2 separate regions of the Homo sapiens genome follow, and region 2 is linked to region 1. Evidence: fine-mapped expression QTL. A gene starts in region 1. The other region holds a variant in brackets. All regions are shown on one strand. Distances are between the middles of the regions.

What was found. PIP is the estimated chance that this variant, and not a neighbour inherited with it, causes the effect.
Region 2: its variant is fine-mapped to the expression of SFRP1 in prefrontal cortex (ROSMAP, PIP 0.95).

Annotation. Positions count from the first base shown.
Region 1 is chr8:41,305,980-41,314,761 of GRCh38, reverse strand. It overlaps SFRP1 (secreted frizzled related protein 1), which reads left to right and starts at 5,289. Exons shown (of 3, transcript NM_003012.5): 1 at 5,289-6,146. The coding sequence starts at 5,603. RefSeq lists enhancers at 3,122-3,649, 5,569-6,339, 6,340-7,111.
Region 2 is chr8:41,373,228-41,382,009 of GRCh38, reverse strand. No RefSeq gene overlaps it. Among named protein-coding and RNA genes, the nearest start is that of SNORD65B, 49 kb to the left of the region's middle. The variant G/A (reference allele first, on the strand shown) is at 3,678.

The DNA of each region.
Region 1 (8,782 bases):
AATAATTTATAGTATATGTATGTCTCAGGTAATATTTGAGACACACTTAATAAGTTTTTTCTTGTTGATCTGGAATTCAAATTTTACTGGATGTTCTATTTTTTAATATTTAAATTTAATTTTTATTTTTAAAGACAGGGTGCCATTCTGTCACCCAAGCTGGAGTGCAGTGGTATGATCATAGCTCACTGCAGCCTCCAACTCCTGGGCTCAAGCGATCCTCCTGCCTCAGCCTCCTAAGTAGCTGGGACTACCGGCACGTACCACTGTGCCTGTAGCTAATTCTTAATCAGCTAATTCTTAAAATTCTTAAAATTGTGCCTAATCAGATAATTCTTAAAAATTATTATTATGTGTAGAAACAGGGTCTTGCTATGTTGCCCGGGCTGGTCTCAAACTCCTGGCCTCAAGCAATCCTCCTGCCTTACTTTCCCTAAGTGCTGGGATTACAGGTATGAGCCACTGTGCCTGGCCATGGGTGTCCTGTATTTTTATTTGTAAATCTGGAAACCCTATGAGTAGTAGTTTGTACAAAAGTAGTGAAAGGCATTACAGATAGAGAAAACAGCATGTGCACACAGCATGAGCCCAGGATGAGAGGCAAGCGAGAAGCCATTGGGTGGGAAAGTGCAAGTACTTCTGGAGACTGGAAACTAGGCTGGTGGGGGGTGCTGGGGAGGTGAAGCTGGAGAGGTCATGGGGGTCAGGGCTGAGTCTTGATACTATCCTGGAGGTTGGGCTTTTTCCTGTGGACAAAGAGTGTGTGAGAATTTTAATCAGAGAAATAGTCCATTTGATATTTTTATTTCTATTTAAAAAGTCATCTTAAAATATGCCTTTTATTTTTAGTTCTCTTCTTTCTAAGAGGTGGTATACAAGTCTTCATTTATTTATATAAAAATTATATTTATAGGCATGAATATATTTATAATATAAATTATAAATTAATTAATGTAGTAATAAATGAACAAAAATTGTCAAGCCCAGTTTGACAGAACCTCGCCTGGAGAGTGGGCAGGTGTGACTGTCTGAGTGGAGGGGCGGGGACGGTGACCTTGGCCTCCCAGTTTGGGGCTCCGCTGAGGGTGTCTTCCTGGCTGCTTACGATAGGAACTGATCCTAGGATGGCCTAGTAAGAAATTACAGGGAGCAGAGTTTCCCTTCAAGGAAGGAAGAACATTCTAGTGGATTGTCTGAACTTGGTGACTATATCCCAAACAAATAAAAGGGATGCTCCGTTAGCTTCTGTCAAGAATGGTGCAGAGGACTGGGTGCGGTGGCTCACCCCTGTAATCCCAACACTCTGGGAGGCTGAGACAGGAGGATTGCTTGGGGCTAGGAGTTCAAAACCAGCCTGGATAACATAGCAAAATCCCATTGCTCAAAAAAAAAAAAAAAAAAAAAAAAAAAAAAAAGCTAGGTGTGGTGGCCTGCATCTGGAGTCCCAGCTACTTGGGAGGCTGAGGTGGCAGGATTGCCTGAGCCCAGGAGGTCAAGGCTGCAGTGAGCCAAGGTCCTGCCACTGCGCTCCAGCCTGGGGAACAGAGTGAGACTCTGTATCAAAAAAAAAAAAAAAAAAAAGATGAAGAGGTAGGGGTGCTTACTCTAAGAAGAGATGAAGAGATGGGGCTGGAATTTGCCTTCAACTCCAAATTTTTAAGATGCTTCCCAGACATTCCCAGACTTCAGTTAGCAGGTCAGGCCAGTTCTTTAAAGAGTTAGAAAGGATCAGGATTACACATCTACAGAGGCAGAATGCAGAAGAAGCTTGTCCAAGTAAGAGCATGACCAGGTTTCAAGGCATCTGACAACGAATACCACTTTGGCCCCTTCAGACTTGCCTGGAAGTCTAAGGATGTGCCTCGAGTGACCCTACATGCTGAGAATTCACACTTCTGAGCTAGCAGGGCAGCCGGGCAGGCATTAATAGCTCTGTTTCACAGATGAGAACACTAAGACCAGAGAGAGGAAGTGCGATTCCCATGAGTCGCCCAGCCAGTTAGGAGCAGAGCTGAGGCTGTAGCCTGTGTCCACTGACTGTGGGCCAGCATGCTTTCCTTGGCATTGCCCCTGACCCACAGATACCCAGCTTCAGGCGGGAGCTCCCTCCCTAGTGCTGCTGGCTGAGGGAGAGCGAGCTGAATGTATCTTTGGAGAGGATGGCAGACATCACTGATGATATGATAGTGGAACACAATGGGAGCTGTGGCTGGGAAGGCTCCCCTCCCAGTTTTTCCAGGAGAAGCCAGGAAAAAGCTCTGCGTGTGGGAAGAGGCCACCTGGGAGGCACCTGGGGGGGCCCTCTGTGACCCTCTGTGGAGGCTGAAGAACTGAGAATGCCTCCTGAAGCTGGTGTTTTGAAGCAACAGAGGACGAACTTTCAGGCTTCATGCATGGGCATCTAGCAGTGTGGGAAAAGCAGAACTTCTGGGAAATGAGAAACATAAGTTAAAGCTGCATTTTGCCTCTGTTTATTTAAGCCATTCAAAAAGGAGGGAGGATATGTCTCCTGGCCCACAGTTCTCATACTCAGGAACCCTCATATCTGGGAGCTCTGTCATGTCAGTTGCATGTTTAAAGGGCCTTTGTTCTAGAACCTTCTGCTGTACACACAGGAGTGCGTGCACACACAAACACACACACACTTGCCATTAGGAAAAGGGGGACTGGATTTTGAAGTGCAAAGAGTTGACAATAAGTAAAAGGACAAAAGTACTGTATGTACCTCTGCAATACAAAGTCTTCAGGCTGTTCTGCCTGGTGCTGTTATGCAGCATGTGAATTTCCCGAGAGGACGGGGGGCGGGTGGTCCCTCTCCCACATCCCAGGAATGGATTAAAGTCTCTCGGTGGGACTGAGGTCTTAGGGTCCTTCCTTTCCAGCTGGGTCTGGGAGGAGTCAGGAGTGCACTGGATTTAGGATTTGGGGTCTTCTCCCATCACTCCCTGTTCCACGGAGAGACAACTGTGTTCCCAGCAGGGGTCAGTAAAGCAGTAGGACCACTAGGGGTGAGTGGGGGAGGTGGTGACTGGAGGTGATCAAAGTCTACTCGGAGTGACCAGACATAGGCGAGGTCTTCCCCTGAATGGATTTGTGAGATTTACTCCTGACTTGGGACTTCCAGGGCAGTCACCTGGACGAATTTCCAGCATTTAACCGTGGACAGACACAAGTCCTCCTGCCATTCGGGAAAACTGAAAACGTGAGTGAGCGGTCAGCTAAGCCTGGGTTCAGAGGTGAGAGGATGTTATCTGCAAACATCCATCTTTGCAGTGAGCAAACAGACGCATTTGGCTTGAGGTGGAGGGCCTGGCCCTAGGAGACAAAAAGACCCCCTACCAAACAGCATTTTTCTCTAAATGCCCCTTGAATTGAGACACAGTTGCCGGGTCTCCTGCGGTCTTATTCTCTGTGAGGAATGTCTTCCTCAGCTCCACAGGCCGGCCTCACCAATTGTCTTGGGATTAACCCTTGGCCATCCCGATCTTGCTCTCTCTTCTCTGTGTTTTCCTTCCAGCCTCCATGTCACCTTTTGAGTGTCAAGGCATCTTCCATTGGCCACGAAATGACAGAGAAGTCATCCATCTGCAGAAGCCTCCTGTGTGCACCGTGGAATCACCGTGTCTGTACGGGCACGAATGCTTTAAGAAAACAGCCCTGCTTCTTCACAAACTCTAGTCATTTCACTTGGAATCTGTCCATCAAGAAATTAGGTTTGCAGAGTCCAAAGCAAGCTCCCTAGAGCTTTACAAACAAGCTGGCGGGCAAGGCAGCGCGCCCTATAGTGTCTCTGTGGAGCGCTAAGATCTGTGACCCCTTTGCCACATGGGGTGTGCGCTCAGACTGGGCTATGAATATATCAGCCTCTCTCCACCCGCACTTAGGGACAGAAGATATGGAGACTCCAGGAACTTCATGAACTATTTGCTGTGGTCTTCTGTCCCGGGATAGTCCGGGTCTCACTCCCAGCTCTCCAGAGCTTAACCCTCCCTCTCAGGGGAATGTTTGAAACCTACGAAGAATTCTCAGGAATTCGAGGTAGAAGGTGGCAGAGAGACTTCTGTTCCTGGGGGCCGAGCTGTTGTGCTGATACCGTCCTCTTGGCGTCTGCCCTAGTGGGGACCCTTGATTTTAACTTGAAGTTCCTGGACTGGGTCTAACCTTAGCATGTGTGCCTGAGTGATGGACTTGGTATTTACACCAGCCACGCTGATAAGTGCACATGTGTTTTTAATGTTTTGGCTTTCCACACCACAAACACACAGATGTGCTGTCGCCCGGGCTAGGACTTGAGTAGGGTTTTTCTATTTAAATATATATTATATATTTAAAAAAGTGTCCTCCCAGAGCTAATACCGTTGCTAGCAGCTCTTCCTGCCGCCACACCGGGCAAAGTCCACCCACTGCCCCAGTGTTGAGGGCCACCATGGGCGGCCCCACCTGGAGAGGTGCTGCTCACAGCAAACAGCTCCAACTGCGCCTTCGCCTCGCCTTCCAGGGAGCCCAGCCAGGCCCACTGGGTATTTACAAGCAGACCTCCCTCGCTTCAGCCTTCCTGAACCCCTGTTAGTTGGGAAACCACCTGTCTGCACCGCAGCTAGAGAACCGAGGAGAGGAGCCGCTAGTCTAAAGGGCTGTTGGTTGAAATTAGGAAGCAGTGTAAAGAAAAAGAAAAAAAAAGTTTGGGAGGCCAAGGCAGGAGCATCACCTGAGGTCAGGAGTTCGAGACCAGCCTGGCTAACATGGTGAAACCCCGTCTCTACTAAAAATACAAAAAATTAGCGGGGGCATGGTGGCACGCGGCTGTAATCCCAGCTACTCGGGAGGCTGAGGCAGGAGAATCGCTTGAACCCGGGAGGCGGAGGTTGCAGTCAGCGGAGATAGCGCCATTGCACTCCAGCTTAGGCAACAAGAGCGAAACTGTCTCAAAAAAAAAAAGTCTTCATAATTTCATGGGTTTGCAAGTATGATCCAGGCTCCCCGCTTCTCTGCAAGCCAATGCGAGTTAATTACAGCGTCCGCCCTGGTCTCTCTCCACCCCACGCCGTGATCCATTCCCCTTCTTTTTCTCCCCTTGTCTCTTTCCTCCTCCCCCTTTTATTTATGTATTTTTGGTTTTGTTTTTTAAGGGGTGTTGAGCCGCGTCTGGTTCTAGTAAACCGAACCCGCTCGCGAGGGAGGCGATTGGCTCCCGCGCCGGTGACGGACGTGGTAACGAGTGCGGCTCGCCCCGCCGGGAGCTGATTGGCTGCGCGGGGCGGCTCCGAGGGCTCGGCCGTAGGAGCCCCGCGCACTCCAGCCCTGCAGCCTCCGGAGTCAGTGCCGCGCGCCCGCCGCCCCGCGCCTTCCTGCTCGCCGCACCTCCGGGAGCCGGGGCGCACCCAGCCCGCAGCGCCGCCTCCCCGCCCGCGCCGCCTCCGACCGCAGGCCGAGGGCCGCCACTGGCCGGGGGGACCGGGCAGCAGCTTGCGGCCGCGGAGCCGGGCAACGCTGGGGACTGCGCCTTTTGTCCCCGGAGGTCCCTGGAAGTTTGCGGCAGGACGCGCGCGGGGAGGCGGCGGAGGCAGCCCCGACGTCGCGGAGAACAGGGCGCAGAGCCGGCATGGGCATCGGGCGCAGCGAGGGGGGCCGCCGCGGGGCAGCCCTGGGCGTGCTGCTGGCGCTGGGCGCGGCGCTTCTGGCCGTGGGCTCGGCCAGCGAGTACGACTACGTGAGCTTCCAGTCGGACATCGGCCCGTACCAGAGCGGGCGCTTCTACACCAAGCCACCTCAGTGCGTGGACATCCCCGCGGACCTGCGGCTGTGCCACAACGTGGGCTACAAGAAGATGGTGCTGCCCAACCTGCTGGAGCACGAGACCATGGCGGAGGTGAAGCAGCAGGCCAGCAGCTGGGTGCCCCTGCTCAACAAGAACTGCCACGCCGGCACCCAGGTCTTCCTCTGCTCGCTCTTCGCGCCCGTCTGCCTGGACCGGCCCATCTACCCGTGTCGCTGGCTCTGCGAGGCCGTGCGCGACTCGTGCGAGCCGGTCATGCAGTTCTTCGGCTTCTACTGGCCCGAGATGCTTAAGTGTGACAAGTTCCCCGAGGGGGACGTCTGCATCGCCATGACGCCGCCCAATGCCACCGAAGCCTCCAAGCCCCAAGGTAAGGCTGCCTCCTCCCACGTGCGCGAGCCGCCCCCTCCATCCCCCGGCCGGAGCTGCAGGAGAACCCGCGCCACCCTACGCCCGCCCGCCGCTGGGTCCCGGTGCTGGGGACTGAGGGCCCGAGGTTGCTCGCATGCTGTGCACGTGATTCCTAAGCGCGTCTGGTCTGTCCCAGGTATCGCTCAGCGCCCCTCGCGACCCAGGTGCACGGCGGGGCTGGCCCGGGAGCGGCAGCTCTGCGCCTTGGCCTCGCAGGGACTCGCTGTGGTCCCCGGAGCCGCTCTTCCTGGGATCCAACTTCGCCTTTCCCATACCTGAAACAAAGCCTTGCGCTTTAAATAACAGGGGAGCTTCCCTCTCCTCTAGGAGGACTCCGAGTCCCTATCGAAGTTTTTAACCTCTGAGACGGGAGGAAAAAACAAAAACCCAAAGCGTAGAAAGTTCAGAAAGGCCGAGAGAATGCTTGGAGCAGCTTTTGTTTATTTTCATAGGTTCGACAAAGATTTAAAAAATAAAACCAAGCCCTTTCCTTCACTGGTCATTCAGTCAAGTAGCCTTGGGATTGCTGCAAAACTGGCTGAGAAAGTTTAGGAACCGTGGGGACTTCTGTTTCTCCACCCCTTCCAGGTACCAGCTCTGCCCTCGGAGGGCTGGGGGTGGAAAGTCTTTTCTCCCTCCCTCTAGCGTACCCCCTGCTTTTCTCATTTACACAAATCCTCAGCTCATTAGAAAGATAAAAATGTAATTAGCTCATTGTTCATCTCCTCCCGGGGAGAGCAGCTCTGCAAAATGCAGACTTTCCTAACAGCCTGAGGGACCGGCCCGAGGTTCCTCTCAAAACCCCCTTATGTTTAAAGAGCAATTCTTGAGGGGGAAGAAAAAAAAATCCTGGGAAGTCAAATAAAATGAAATAGATATAAAGATAAAATATACACATCACAGACCTGACTTCTATAGAAGTAAATTCAACCCAGAATTCTTTAGAAGCGAAGTTTAGGCTCTGAGGTGTGGAGAGGGTCAGGGATTGGGGAGCTGTACCCCAGCTGCGCTTAGCACAGACGCAGGCTTCCTGAGGGCTTTTTGAGGAGGGCCTTTAGGGTGGGGGAGAAAGACTGCCTACACTTAGCTCACCTTAAAGTGTCTTTAACCTCTGTTATTGATGCTAAAAGAGGGGAGTGCAGTCACCTGGCTCCTCAGAGTGAGGATTTGGGCAGGTGGGGGAAAGGGATACCCCAAATTTTAGATGCTTTTGCTTATTCTAGGGAGGGTGGAGATGGGTCCACAGTGACTGTCGTTGGATGGCTGGATGGGAACGGCACTGATTGCCCGCAGTGGCCAGGTCTGGGCACCGCTGCTCTCAGAGTCAACTCTGGTGTTGGGAGTGGAGTGAGGGTAGCGGATGCATCTGCACTTTGTGAGCGAGAACTGAGCAGTTACCTGGAGCAAACAAAGCGCCTTGTGTTCTGTTGGCTTGCACCCATCCCCTGCAGCCTGCGGGAATTTCCTTCTCCCCTTCCTCAGCCAGCGGGGATTAGCCCAGCCCTGCCCTGTGAGGCTGTGCCCAGCCCTGACCTGGAGTCCATTCCCAATGGCTTCCGATGGTCTCTTTCTGGGACCGTCTGCAGACATGAGTGGACACCTTAGGGGGCTCGGCTGCGGAAAAGGTGCTGCAGTCCACAGGGAACATGGGGGGATTGGACGGGTTGCCTGAAGAAGAGAGGAAAGAATCCCTCACCCCAGCCCCCAAAAGGCTGTGATGGGATGGGGAAACCCCATAATCGCTGTCTTCCGGACACCTTTTGCCCCTTGGCTGCAGTTCCACTGGTCGGCGCCCTTCTCAGCCTGGCTTGGAACCGTCCTCACTCACCTCCACTCCTCCCAGCAGCGCTCAGGTAGTCACCCTCCCAAGACAGGTCTTTGAGGAGCAAAGAGAAAAGTGGGGAGAGGGCCGGTCGGGAGTGGGGCTTGGGACTGGTTTTCCCCTCAGTGGTTTTGGTGGGGGGCTCTGCCCTGAGATGGCACACCACCCTCCCCAGGACTGCAATCCCTGGTGTAAGGGAGCCCCACGTGATTTCCTGCGAGGTCCCTGTGGAGGGGAGGGTGGGGCGTGTGTGTGTGTGTGTGTGTGTGTGTAGGTGTGTAGAGGGCAGGTCAAGACAAACCAGACTACTGATCCTCATAACCTTATGGCTTGTGGCTGTGGGGTCGTAACTGGCACTTTCCAATGAGAATAAGTATGCATGCACTACTCTTTTATTCGTTTATTCTTTATGCTTTTATTCTTTAAAATTAAAATGCATTTTCAAAGCAGTGTCATATCTTTGCATACTGGTTTCTGTTCACACACTTGGGCAAATTCAGTTTTGGATTATTGGCCAGCTGTCTGTGGTCATGTGTTATTAAGGAGAAACCTGATAATGAGAAATGACTTGACATTTTTCCCCTGCAAAGGCTGATACCCAAGCCATAGAAGCTCCTGTTAGGGAAGAGGCAATTGCTCTTTTTCTAGGGAAGTCATTTTTGAATTTGGCACTTCCATTAGAACTGTGAACTCCCAGGCTGATGCATTGTTGTTTCCCTCTCTGCCTGGTTTTACTGGGTGAAGTTGTATGAGCCAGCACATTGGGTTTGATT
Region 2 (8,782 bases), 67 kb before region 1:
AATCTTCTTTTCCATCTGGGACTCCAATTACAAAATGTTGGACTGCACAATATTTTTCCACATATCTCTTAGACTCTTTTCTTCAAAATTTTTTATATCTACTATTTGAATTGGATAATTTCTACTGATTTATTTGGAAATTCACTGATTTTTCCTCCATCTTCATTCTACTGTTGAATGCATTTAGTACATTTTTTATATTAGTTATTATACTTTTCAGCTCTAGAATTCTTAATGATTTCCATTTATCTGATGACACTCAGTCCACTCATTAGGACTATATTTTCATTTAATCATTCACACATCTTTTAATACTTTAAACATATTTATAAAAATGATTTGAAATCTTTGCCAAATCCAATATCTTGGGCCACTGATAGTCAATTTCTATTGACTACTTTATTTTCCTATTTCTTTGCATACCTGGTAATTTTTGGTCAAAGACTGAGTAGTGCAGAATAAATGTACTAGTGATTATAGATTCTGTTATATTCTTCTGAGAATTGTTTTGTTGTAGTACATAGTTAATTGCCTTGACTCAAACTGCAAACTCTGCTTCCTCTGCAGTGTGCAGTAACTTGTATATCTTCTCAGTTCTTTCAGTTCCGTGTGTGTGTGTGTTTGTGTGTGTGTGTGTGTGTGTGTATGTATGTATGTATTTGTGTCTTCTTGGTGTCTGCATGCTTTGATGGTTAGCCAAGGATTTGTGCAGAGTTTATACTCAGATTTAGGGGCATACACTCTCTACAGCTTCTTTGCTTCTAGAGTTTTCTAAATTCTTGACTCTTCTGTCATTCCAGAGCCCAGTCCTTCAATACTTCAATCCAGTAAGGCTTAAGCTTTTTGTTGCTTACCTGTTTGCTGGTTGGGGATTCCACTGTCAAAAAAGGAGAAAACTCTCAAACTCATCTAATACAGCTCTGTCTTTCAAGGGTAAATGCCTTTCTGGTTTCTGTTTGCTTTTCTTAGGTACCCTGCCCTTCCTCCACATCCATCCATAGTTTTGTCATCATCCAGGGCTTTGGGGTATAGTATGCACTCAGATTTTTGGTCTCACACTTTCTTCAATTTTCTCACTTCCAGGATTTTAACCCTAAATTTCCTCTTCTACCACTCTTGCACTCCTTCCTCTGCCATCTTGAATTGGTAAGGTTGATTTATTTCTTCTGCTATAGCTGTGAGGGTTAGGGAATGTTCTGAGGCAGAAAACAAGCAAACAACTCCCCACCCCACAAAATCAACAACCATAAACTTGCAATTTTTACTGGAAACAGTTACAGTCATTTAAGGGTAGGCTGTTCTCTGACTTCTATCTACTAGTTTCTTCAAATAGTTGGTTATTAAAAAAAGAATTTGTTGGCCAGGTGTGTTGGCTCACACCTGTAATTCCAGCACTTTGGGAGGCCAAGGCAGGTGGATCACTTGAGGTCAGGAATTTGAGACCAGCCTGGCCAATGTGGTGAAATCCCGTCTCCACTAAAAATACAAAAATTAGCCGTGCATAGTGGTGGGTGCCTGTAATCCCAGCTACTGGAGAGGCTGAGGCAGGAGAATTGCTTGAACCTGGGGGGTGGAGGTTGCAGTGAGCCGAGGTCATGCCACTGAACTCCAGCCTGGGTGATAAAGAGTGAGACTCTGTCAAAAAAAAAAAAAAAGAATTTGTCTGCATTTCGTTATTGTCTAGGAAAGGATTCACCAATGACTTCACTCCACTGCTACTGGAAGCAGATTTGAACAGTAGTACTACAGGTTTTGTGATAGTTGTCTTATCTTCTCTATGACTTCAGAAGTGAAATTAGCATCCTCCCTAGATCCTACTCCCTGAGAGCTCCTTCTGATCTTCTACTCTTTCTCTCCTTCAGTCTCTGCTGGGTCCTCATGGAACCCAGTAACTTGATTTTTCATTTGATAAATGTTATTTCTTTACATACAAAAGTTTTACATTTTGATATAATAATTCTTAGTCTTTTAATTTGTCTTTCTTTTGCCTTAATGCTTAGAAATTCCTTTTCTAACCCTGGGTTTGGTAAATATTTACTTATATGTTTATCAATTTGTGGCACAGTTGCCTCCCATTTAATACTTTAATCCATGTGTAACTTACTTGAATGTATGATGTGAGGTAGGAATTAAACTTTGTTTTTATCAATTAGTTAACCAATTTCCCTGGCACTATTTTATTGATTAAAACATCCTCTGGGCTGGGCGCAGTGGCTCACGCCTGTAATCCCAGAACTTTGGGAGACCGAGGTGGGCAGATCATCTGAGGTCAGGAGTTTGAGACCAGCCTGGCCAACATGGTGAAACACTGTCTCTACTAAAAATACAAAATTTAGCTAGGCGCGGTGGCAGGTGCCTGTAATCCCAGCTACTCAGGAGGCTGAGACAGGAGAATCACTTGAACCCGGGAGGTGGAGGGTACAGTGAGTCAAGATCGTGCCACTGCACTCTAGCCTGGGCGACAAAGCCAGACTCTGTCTCAAAAAAAAAAAAAAAATCCTCTTCTCATTAAGATGGAATATTGCATGATAGAGAAATTGCTATTATCTATTCTAGATATTTCCTCCCAGGTGAAGGAACGCCATTGGTATGGTACTTCTGATTTCTCTCCATCCACTTCCTCACTCCACTCCTGAAGAGGTTGAGTGACTTTTTTATTTAGTAAGTTGGGGAAAACAATCAAGCATACTTAGTTTTAGTTGCCTTTCTGGTTGGACTCAAAGTGTCGAAAGGGAACAAGATTTCTTCCCTAAATGCTTTTGGCCCATGCACCTACCATGAGGGTTTCTGGAAGGCATTTTTCTTCTTCACATGGGTCCTGACGAAATTGGGATGATGAAGGCCAGTCTTTTATTACTGATAAAGGTTAAACTGGAGAATGCCCAAAGCTTCTGCTGATGGGCGCTGCGTCTGGCAGATAAACCCACTCCATGAGTGGAAAATGAGACCAGGCAGCCCTCCTGGTGTGCAAGGGGAGCCTGCCCCTGGAATGGGAACAGTGCCTGCTCCCCATGTGCAGCTCCCTCCCAAGTAAGGGAAGAGCAGAGTTAGGATAAGCACATTGCATCTTCCCCCAAAACTTTTAGATCCATGTCACTTGCTCTCTCCAGAGAGGAGTGAGTAAGGGGTGAGAAGAGGCTGGAGAGGTGGCTGCAGTGCAGCCTCCTCCACCTGAAAGGAAATATTATGAGTAGGAAGGAAGCATCCCAAAATATACCTTTGTTTTATTCAATATTTACAAATAGAGGTGCTTTCAGTAACAGATACACACAGATTTATTTCTGAGCTTTCTTTTAGGTTCTTTGGTTTGCTTACCTATTATGGTTCCAGTACCATCCTTTTATTTTATTTATTTTTTATTTTTTTTATTTTGAACCATCCTTTTAGAGTAATAGAGATTTATGATACTTGTTAATATTTGGCAGAGCAAGTCACTTCTTACTAATTTTCTTTTTCAAACATTTTTAGTAATTAGTGATTCTTTATTTTTGGGATGTACCTTAGGATAATTTTGCTATTAAAAAAAAAAATCTTGGCCAGGCGTGGTGGCTCATGCCTGTAATCCCAGCACTTTGGGAGGCTGAGGCGGGCGGATCACTTGAGGTCAGGAGTTTGAGACCAACCTGGCCAACAGGGTGAAACCCTGTCTCTACTAAAAATACAAAAATTAGCTGGGC[G/A]TGGTGGCAGGCGCCTATAGTCCCAGCTACTCAGGAGGCTGAGGCAGGAGAATCGCTTGAACCCGGGAGGCGGAGGTTGCAGTGAGCCAAGATCATGCCACTGCACTCCAGCCTGGGTGACAGAGTGAGACTCCATCTCAAAAAACAAAACAAAACAAAACAAAACACAAAAAACTCAGTAGGTTTCATACTGAATTTTTCAGCTAGGATGCTATTTCTCTTGATATTCAAGATTTTAAAACTTTTCCAATAAATTTTATAGTTTTATTTACAGATAACCTGAATGTTTCTTTTATTTAAGAAAAGAATTGAGAGGGAATTTTTTTTTATTATGACCACAATTACAGAATATAACTGGAGCTTTTGAGTGTTCCTAAAGGGAGTCATTTGTACACAGAAGATTAGTTTCAGGATGTTAACATTAGTACTTGACTTATTAAAATTATAAATTAAAAATAGATTTTTCTTAATCTTTTAAGTTCAAGTTACAAACCTATTCATAAAATTGGTAAAATACATGCAAAAATTTTAAATTTTCCTTTGATTAAAGTTGAATTAATGCAAGGTGAATAGAACATATCCCCTTAAACAATCAGTTCTGTTTACAACTCAGTTAATTAAATTCCTTCAATCATTAAAACTGTATTTATAAGTTTAGCATAATTGCTTTTCTTTTCAGCACTTCAAATGCCCCTAACAAGAATAGCCTTCCCAAGTTCTTGAACAATTCTATTAAGTGTGATAAAAACAAATTGATAAATATGACAAATCTTTAAAAAAATTCAGTGTAGTTTAAAAAATTAGCTAAAGTCTCATACCTTTCAACTTGCAATGATAAAATCAATTACTCAAATGCATGTTGTAAAATGGAATCACAGCTCTAATCTTTATGATTATCTTATGTCCCCCCAAAATCTCTACAGTCACTTTCTTTCTTTCTTTCTTTTTTCTGGAGACAAGATCGGGCTCTATTGCCCATGCTGGGGTGCAGTGCTGCAGTCTCGGCTCACTGCAACCTCTGCCTCCCAGGCTCAGGCAAACTTCCTGCCTCAGCCTCCCTACCTGGGGCCACAGGTGTACACCACCATACCCAGCTAATTTTTGTATTTTTTTATAGAGATGTGGGGGGTCTCTCTATGTTGCCCAGATTGGTCTCAAACTCCTAGGCTTAAGTGACCTGGCCTCCTCAGCCTCCCAAAGTGCTGGGATTATGGGCCTGAGCCACCGTGCCCAGCCCTCTTTACAGTCACTTTAGATACCAAATATACACACGTTGTTCCAATGATTATCCAAACAGATTCCTGAATGTAACACAGAAGTATTAATATATATGTAGTTTGATTTATTTCTTCATCTTTGTATCTAATTCAAAAATGTCCTAGGGTTAAAAGACACCCATGAGGAAAACAATTTTACCATCCCAAGCCAATAAGAGTTATTACCCCAATCAAATTGGGGGAGAGATTTCAGAAAAAAAATTATGGGCCAGAGATTTTGGGTCCTACACTAGATCTGACCCTCCTGGAGCCGCTCAGCGAAACATTGACTTAGTTTTTAATAGTCATTAAAAACAGGGATCCCAAGTCCTTATCTTTTGGAAAGGATTTATCTCTTTTGAGTTTAAAATATACCATTACTTAACCCTCTGGCCTGATATGAAATCTGTAGCCTCCTGCCCAGTTTACTTCACAGCATGTTTAAATCTATTTCCTGCCTGATTCTATTTTGAATTATTGGCAGATCTTTCTGTATGTCCTGCCACAGTTTGATAGCAGCTTAATGATACCCAGACTGAAGTGATTCTTGTGAAAATACAGATTATACAAACATCCATTTATCCAACACCCAGCTTAATCGGATCATAACATTTTATTATGTTTACTTCAGGTTTTAAAAAGCATTAAAACCACTTCTGATAGATTTGAAGCCTCCAGTGTATTCTTCTGTGATTTCATTTTCTCCTTTCCCAGATGAACACTGAATTTTGTGTTCATAACTTCCAAGCATCTTTTGATTCTATCATAACATACAAATGTGCCAATAATATGTATTGTTTTGCATGTTCTCAAATTTTCTGTACATATTATCTTGTAGTTATATTGCCACTTCCTTTCTTGGTAATCAGCATGCTTTTGAGAATTACTAATGTTGATACATGTAGCTCCAGTTAATTTGACTGCTGTATAATAGACATGAATTCAATAAATATGTCATAATTTATTTTTCCACTCATTTGGTGGATGGATTTTTTTCCCCAGTGTTTTGCTGTGATAAACATTGTTGCAATTAACATTTTTGTACATGTTTCTGTGTACAATATGTGTGTGAGAGTTTTCGTAGAATATATATTTAATAGTAGAAATTCTGGGTTGAAGACCTACATTTTTACCCTTACTATTTCCAAATTGCTTTCTCATGCTAAGTGAGAGTTCCGATCGCCCCCTAATTCTTACCAACACTTGTTTTCAAACTTTTGCAATATGATGAACAAGAGATCGTTTCTCCCTCTTGTAGTTGAGAATTCTGGGGTTACTGGTGAGATTGAGCATTTCTTTTCTGTCTATTGATCATTTCCCTTTCCTCTTCTGTATATTGCCTGCTCATGTGTTTTAGCCATTTCTCTACTGTCATTTTTTCCTTAAATTGAAAGCCATGTATAAATGCTAATTTTAACCCTTTATAGGTTTATGCATAAAAGATATTAAATTTTAACTTCTACTGAGGTCAAATCTTTTCCTTATGATTTGTTTTCTACAAAGTCATAGAGATTTTCTATATTGCCTTCTAAAAACGTTACTTTTCACATGTAGGCCTTAATTTACTTGGAAATGATTTTTTTTTTTTTGGTAGGGAATTAAGTGGTTTCTCTTTTCCAGATTGGTGTCACCCTTTGTTAAATGATTATGTTTTCCACGCATGTATAATTCCACCTCTGTCATATATCAAGTTTTCATGTATGCATGGGTCTGTTTTCAGACTCATGAGACAGAATGTGTGTGTGTTGTGTGTATGTGTGTGTGTGTAGCTGTGTGTCTGTGTGTAATTCCTAAGGCAAAATTACTCTATTTAAATCATGGCTTTAAATTGATTTATTTGTGATTCTTTTATTTTGAGATGGAGTTTTGCTCCTGTTGCCCAGGCTGGAGTGCAGTGGTGGCACGGTCTCGGCTTACTGCAACCTGTGCCTACTGGATTCAAGCCATTCTCCTGCCTCATGCCCAGGTGGCACCTGCCACCATGCCCAGCTAATTGTTATATTTTTAGTAGAGATGGAGTTTCACCATGTTGGCCAGGCTGGTAAACCCCCGATCTCAGGTGATCCATCCACCTCAGCCTCCCAAAGTTGGGATTACAGGCGTTAGCCACCATGCCTGGCCTTTTTGTGATTCTTAGCTCTTCATATGAATTCTAGATCTACTTATCAAATTCATAAAAAATTGTGTTAACATTTTGATCGGAGTTGTATTGAATTTATAAGATTTTATTTGGGTTGAATTAGTGTCTTAATAATATTCTTTTTATCCATGGACTTTGTACTTATTTCTTTATTAATGTGTTTTATTCATTATGTATATTATGAATACTTTGTGATTTTTCCAACAAATGTGTCTTAAACATTTTTGTTACATTTATACATAGATTCTTTATAGTTTTCCTTGCTATTATAAATGGAATTATTTTTCTATCATATTCTATCATAATCTCTAATTGGTAATTGCCAGTGGAGATGTAAATTATTAATTTTTAAATGTTGCTAATATCACTTATCAGTTATAATAGTTTGTAGAATGCTTAGGTTTGTTCTCTATGTTGAAAATCACACCACCTGGGGATAAGGACAGTTTTAGGTCATCTTTTTCTATTATTATTTGCTTTATTCTTCTATCTTACGGTATTAGCCGGAACCCACTGTTTAATGTTGAACATAAGCAGTGATGGTAGGTGTCTTTATTTCATTTTTTACTGTATTGTTAATGATTCTCAAGTTATACTGTTAATTATGATGTTTAATAGATTTTGTATCATGTTTAATAATATAGGTTATAAGATTAAGGGTGTCATCTCCTATTCCCAATTTCCTAAACTTAAAAAATTTTTATTTTATTTATTTATTTATTTATGTATTTATTTATTTATTTATTTATTCATCTATTTTTTAGGGACAAGGTCTTGCTCTGTTGCCCAGGCTGGAGCACAGTGGTGTTCATTGCAGCCTTAACTCCTGGGGTCAAGGGATCCTCCTGCCTCGGCCTCCGAAGTAGCAGGGACTCCAGGCCACCACACCTGGCTAATTAAAAAAAATTTTTTTTTGTAGAGATGGGTCTCTCTATGTTGTCCAGGCTGGTCTCAAACTTCTGGCCTCGAGTGAGGCTTCCAACTCAGCCTCCCAAAGCACTAGGATTATAGGTGTGAGCCACTGAGCCTGGCCGTATTTTTTTTTTTAATGTGAACAGGTATTGACTTTTATCAAATGTCTTTTCAGCATCCATTGGAATTATCAAGAATGACTTGAATATTTTGGAAGACTTACCCTTAAAACACTCTGGTCTTGTGTCTCTTGGAGGGAAAGGCTTTGATTAGGAATTGAATTTCTTTAGGCTTTTTGTTTGTTTGTTTATTGAGGCTTTCTATTTCTTCTTAAGCCAATTTTGATAATTCATAATTTATCTAATTTATCTACATTTTCAAATCTACTAGCATTTAATTCATATTCTTATCTAAACATTTTTTAAAACTCTACTCTTTGGAGATCATGTCTCTCTTTTTGCTTTAAATATGTTGATTTGTGCCTTTTATTCTTGATCAGTCTTACTGCAGGTTTATCCTACTATGTTTATAAAGCCCATCTTTTAGTATTATTAATACACAGTATAATTTTTTGTGTTGTATTTAATTAATTTTGGCTCTTAACTTTATTATTTTCCTGCTTCCATTTTTTTTTGGATTTATGATGAGTCTGTCTTGCTTTGCGAGTTGAGTATTTAGTTTTTTTTAATCTTTAAAAAACTTTTTGCTGAGTGACTTTAAGTCTCGAATTTAAACTCTAATATCAATGTAACTATATCCCTCTAGTTTTCATATTTACCACCTGTACTGTTATTCAG